Linked DNA regions of Homo sapiens: region 2 is linked to region 1. The links come from fine-mapping of genetic effects on gene expression. A gene starts in region 1. The other region holds a variant in brackets. All regions are shown on one strand. Distances are from middle to middle. Region 1 holds the start of RHOT2 (ras homolog family member T2). Region 2 overlaps MPG (N-methylpurine DNA glycosylase).

The links.
Region 2: its variant is fine-mapped to the expression of RHOT2 in skeletal muscle (GTEx, PIP 0.93).

Annotation. Positions count from the first base shown.
Region 1 is chr16:667,020-669,558 of GRCh38, reverse strand. RHOT2 (ras homolog family member T2) reads right to left here and starts at 1,427. Exons shown (of 19, transcript NM_138769.3): 1 at 1,323-1,427; 2 at 1,148-1,206; 3 at 990-1,071; 4 at 860-903; 5 at 1-6. The coding sequence starts at 1,359. It overlaps WDR90 (WD repeat domain 90), which reads right to left. Exons shown (of 41, transcript NM_145294.5): 41 at 1,729-2,127. The coding sequence ends at 1,970. RefSeq lists silencers at 960-1,049, 1,150-1,249, 1,310-1,649 and an enhancer at 1,035-1,716.
Region 2 is chr16:82,381-85,380 of GRCh38, reverse strand. It overlaps MPG (N-methylpurine DNA glycosylase), which reads right to left. Exons shown (of 4, transcript NM_001015052.3): 3 at 2,125-2,329. Among named protein-coding and RNA genes, the nearest start is that of MPG, 5.7 kb to the right of the region's middle. RefSeq lists enhancers at 91-210, 918-1,773 and a silencer at 311-370. The variant G/C (reference allele first, on the strand shown) is at 1,692.

The sequences.
Region 1 (2,539 bases):
GTTTGCCTGAGGGAACAGTGATGAGGTGTGGGTGACAGGGCTGCTGGCTCACCACCGACGACCCTGGCCGTTCCACGCCATCTCGAGGCTCCAGGAGGCCCCAGAAGCTCACAGGTAGCATGGGTGCAGCTCTGAGGCCGGGAAAGCCCAGCCTTCCCTAAAACCTGCCTCCAGCCTGGTGTTGGCAGAGCAGGCACTCCCCAGTGTCACACTGGGAGCTGCTGCTGAACCCTCAGAGAAGCCTCTTCCCCGCCCACTGCCAGTGCAGGGACACCAGGCCCCAGAAGCATAACTGTGGTCAGCAAGACCCTTGGAGCAGAGGGCTCAGGACAGACACGGCCACACCTGCAACCCAACACCCTGCAAGACAGCCGCCGCCTTGGCCCCTGCCTCCCCCCTCGCTACAGACAGAGTGACAGGACCGCAGTGAGGGGTGCCAACAGCAGGGGCTGCCCTGGGTGGCTGTGGCCTGTGCCCTTGCCTGGAGATGTCCCCGGCACACGTGCTCTGGTACTGGGAGCTCCGGGTGCCCGGAGGCCGGGACGGTGGGCTGGAGCACACAGCACGGGGACGTGGCGCACACAGAGCCCACAGGAAGAGCAAACGCTGCTGCCACCCCGGCAGGAGGGAGGGAGAGCCCGCGGGGAAGGGTCCTGTTATCCCTGGAGCACCACTGGACTGAGCGGTGCCGGCTCCCAGCGGGGTGCGCTGTAGGGGCCCCGACAACCCTCAGTGCGGAGGTCACAGAATTATCAGGGCCAAGGACACCCGGAGCACCTCGGTCCAATCCCCCAGGCTGCGAAGCGGATTAGGCCGAGCCCGCGCCCAGCCCCTCCCTCGTCCCGCGCACCACGGGTACCTTGTGGATCTCCTCCCGCAGCTCCTCGTCCGTCTGCTCGGCTTCTAGGGGGACAAAGAGACTCCACTGCGGACCCAGCAGGCCCGCCGGACCGCTGCGGGCCGGGCCCCCGGGAGGCTACGGCCGCTACCTGAGTAGTCCACGATGTGGGTGGGCACCTTCTCCGGGGTGACGTCCGCGGGGATGGTGATCTCCTCCGCGCGGGGAGGGACCTGCAAGGGACCCGCGCGCTCACCAGGGACCCCCGGCTGGGCCCGCTCCCACCCCCGCGGCGGGCGTGCCCCTTACCTCCTCGGGGAACTCCTCGCCCACCAGGGACAGGATCAGCGACGTCTTCCCCACCTGGGCTGCGCGGGGCGAGGCGGTCAGCGCGAGGGCCAAGGTCACGGCGCCCCCCGACCCCCGAGACCCTCACCCCGCCTCACGGCCGCCGCAGCTCCGAGACCCCCGGGCCGGCGCCTACCCTCGCCCAGTAACAGGATGCGCACGTCCCGCCTCATAGCTGCCGCCCGGAGCCGCTCCCCGACCCGGAACCCGGCCCCGACCTGGTCCTCAAGCCTTTCGCTCTGCCCCCGCGCCCGCCCCGCACTTCCGGTTCTCGGCCCCGCGCTGTCCCCACACTTCCGGCCCCGCCCGCACAGCCGCACCAGCGAGCCGGGCGGGCCAGAGCGGACAGGCTGTGCGGCGCGCCACCGTGTGGACGCGCCGGCCACGGCGGACAGCGCAGGGTCCTGGCGCCCTGGCAGGCCGAGCGGCCATTGCTTCACGGCACCACAGGGGCCTTGACAAACAGCCGATTAAGGGACGGGCAGAGGCTGAGCTCAGGCCAGGAGTGACCAGAGACAGCCAGTGCAACAATGCAGCAATAATGCAATAAATGCCCATGTTTATTACAAGATAGAAACATTAAAGATTTCTTAGGCAAAAGGGCAACAGGTATGAAAGTATTCACAGGGCGCCAAATTTACAACAGCTTGCTCCAGGCGATTTACGTGAATCCTGGCCTGTCCCAGCATGAGGCCATTGACAACCTGGCGCCTCTGCCAAGCCTGTGTCCAGGTGCCTGGCATGACCAGGCGTGATGCCCACCACCACAGTCCCTGCTGCATCTCAGAGGCCGGGGACCTCCCACACAAGGATCTCGTTGCGGGCGGCCGTGAAGAGCAGCCTGGCGGACGGTGTAAACCTGCACAGGTGCACTGCGTTGTCGTGGCCGGCAAAGTCTTGGGCAGTCCCCATGGCACAGTCTACCAGCCTCAGCATGCACTCTGTGGGTAGACGGTGCAGGTGGGCCAGGGCCAGGACCAGGCAGCACTCAGAGGGCTCCCCCAACCCACCCAGACTGTCCCCACTGGGCATGATGCTGGTCGGGGGAGCTGGTGCTAAAAGGGCTCCTGGCTGTGCCCTCCACGTGCCACTGGGACTAGGGGGTCCATCACTGCCAGGCTGTCGGCCTGCAGCTGGGCCAGTTCCCTCCTTAAAAGTCGCTGCCACCCGTGCATTCAGGCCCTGTGCTGGGCGCTGTGCCTGGTTCCTCACCTGCCTCATCATCTCCTGACTCCAGGACCCTCTCTAGGGCAGATGTCCTCACCCCACCCCAGAGACGAGGAGCCCGGGGCACAGGTGAGGCACCTGTCTTGGAACAGGGCACCAGTCAGCCCACTTGGCCCCCACCTAAGA
Region 2 (3,000 bases), 580 kb after region 1:
AAGTGGAGCCTCCCTAGGCTCCTGTCCTCTCTGCCCTAGTACACATCCAGACATCCTGTGCTGCAGGGAGGGTGCAGCTGCCTTCCTGCCTGGGCCAGGGACCTGCTCTGTGCACCTGCACCATCTCCTGGGTCTGACCTGGTGGGAGGGGGCTGCACCTCACTGTGTCCAGACCCCTCTGCCTACCTTGCCATCCTCCAAGCCTGCACCATGAGGTGTGCCTCCTGTGGGCACCTCTGGCTTCCACCACCAGGCAGGGCCTCCCCCACTGTGGCCGCCCCCACAAAGCCAGACTGTTAAAAACACATGACAAATGCTGGGTATCAGTTCCTTTCCACCTGGCTTCCCCTGGTCTTGTGACTGGCAGCAGCTATAAAGCCAGCAAAGGAAGCTCCAGAGAGCCAGTCCTCGGGTGCGATCATTCAGCCAGGAAGCAGGAAGCCTTGGCCTAGCCAGGCCCCAGCGCTCCCCTTCTGCCTCACCCACTCAGTGTTTGTGTTGGTCAAGTGGTGGGGGCTAGGAGTTGGCTTAGAGCAGCTGCCAGTGTGCACCGGATGTTGGGAGAGCCCATGCAATGACTCAGTGGAAGGACTGACTGCAACACCCTGCACAGGCAGGGCAGGAGGAGGCTGACAAAGCCCCCTCACCTCCCTTGGGATCCCTCCTCCAGCCTAGCCCCCTCCCTCACCAGGCCAGGCCCCTTGAGAAACAGAGACAGCAAGCGAAGGCTCCTGGGCCCAGGGGCTCACTCAAGCACAGATACCCGAATTCCCTCTGCCCTGCAGGTTTGGAAAGGCCCCTTGGATTCCTGGCTGGGGACAATGATGACCTGGACCCTGGCCAGAAGAGCCCTGGCCCTCCAGCAAGGCAGCACCTGCTCTGATGCACCTGTGCACCCCTGGCCCTCCCAGCCACCTGGGAGTCCGAAGCTTAGCCTGGAGGTGGCCAAGCCAGTCCCTACTCTTGGGCTGCGGCCACGTGAGGCTCCGCATCAGCAGCCAGGGGCGAGCACTAGTGGACAAAGCCAGCAAATGCGGCGTTCCTGTGAGCAGATACCCTCAACCAGCCAGCTGTCAAAAGTATTTCAAGATAAAATCCAGGCCAAGCAAAGCCTTTAAGTTCCCGTCCATTCTGTGATTCCCACGCTGCTTCCAGCTCACCAGGTGGGGTGCCTGCTGCCCACCCTGACCCACCTCAGTAGGGAGGAGCAGGACCCTCTACATCCCTGTGGGTGCAGGGCACACGCCCCTCGTTGTCTCACTGAGCCCCCACAGAGCCGCCTGCAAATGAGTCAAAGCCTGGCCGCCCTCATCACCACAGCCCCGTGCCCTGGCTCCTTCACACAGAACACATCCAAGTCCCACATCCTGACAAAAACATGACCCCTTTGATCACTTCCTGCCAAACCTCCCTTTCCTCACCGACTCCTCCGCCGACCCTAAGTCCCCCTGCTGTGCCCACTGCTCCATCCTTGGCAACCTGACCACGCTGCTCTTAGCACTGCAGTCATCCTCTTCTCCAATCAGCTTCTCATCCTCATGTGCTGCCTCCGTCAAGGGCAGGCGACACTGTGTCCTCGGCCTTCTTTCTGCCTCCACTCCAACCAACCCTTTCTTTTCCTTTCCTTTTTTTTTTTTTTTGAGATGGAGTCTCGCTCTGTCACCCAGGCTGGAGTGCAATGGCGCGATCTT[G/C]GCTCCCTGCAACCTCCGCCTCCCGGGTTCAAGCGATTCTCCTGCCTCCGCCTCCCTAGTAGCTGGGATTACAGGAGCCCACTACCACACCCAGCTAATTTTTGTATTTTTGGTAGAGACAGAGTTTCACCGTGTTGGCCAGGCTGGTGTCGAACTCCTGACCTCAGGTGATCCGCCCGCCTCGGCCTCCCGAAGTGCTGGGATGACAGGCGTGAGCCACCGCGCCCGGCCCCACCCGGCCCTTTCTACCCCTTTAACCTAACCAGCCCTGCCCCGTCAGCGTAGCCAGAGCTCCCGAAACCCTGGCCTGGCCTGGAAGTGGCACCTCCTCGCTCAAATGCTGGCCCCACCTCAGTCCTCCTAGTGGTCCCCTGGCTGCTAGCGGACAGGGCTCTGCCGGCCCTCCAACCCCCCGTGCCCCAGCACTGCTCACCCTGGCTGGAGATGTTCATGCAGAAGTACATGCCGTAAATGATGTACACGTACAGGGTCCCCGGCTTCATGAACATGCCTCGGTTGCGGGGGGTCTGCCGGCCACCCCTTGAGTGGGCGGCTTCATCCTCTGGCCCCAGGTATGCCTCGGTCTCCACGATGCGGCCTCGGAGTTCTGTGCCATTAGGAAGTCGCCGGACTAGGACCTGTGGGCAGTCAGTTTCTGCTCAGGGCGGGAAGGGATGGGGGTCCACTCACCCTAACAGTGCCCAGCCTGGACCTCATCTCCCCAGCTCAGGGTGTGTCAGCCGCCCAGGTCTAGCCAGGGACCTTGCCCCGTCTCCATCCTGCCTCTTCTCTTGCTCCTGCTGAGGCTGAATGTGGCTATTGAGGGCACCAGTTGTCTCCTCCAGCCCTGCTAGACAACCAGACCGCAGGCCGAAGATACCTCAGGCCACAGCCAGGCTGGGCTGGGAACCGGCAGTCATGGATTCACCTTGCAGGTCAAGTCCTCTCAGCAGGACCCTCCATTCCCCAGATTCCTCCTTTCCCAAGTGCCCTTGAGAAAACCATCAGCATTTAGCACGAGGCCAGGCATCACGGAAGGCACAGGACCCCAAGGATGTCCCCACACCAGCTACCTGGGCAATCCCAGAGCCCGTGAAGTCCCCTAAACCTGGGCTGCTGAGGTGGCCACAAGGGACCCTCATACTCAGCTCCCACCCTCCGGCTTTCTGAGCAGTAGGCCCAGCTGCCCCACGGTGCCCCAGCCTGGACCATGGTCCTGGTAACGGCCAACAGTTGTGTCACTGCTCGGAGCCCCAGAGTTAACAGCAGAGCACTGGGGACCAACCACATCCCCTGCACCTCTCGTTTT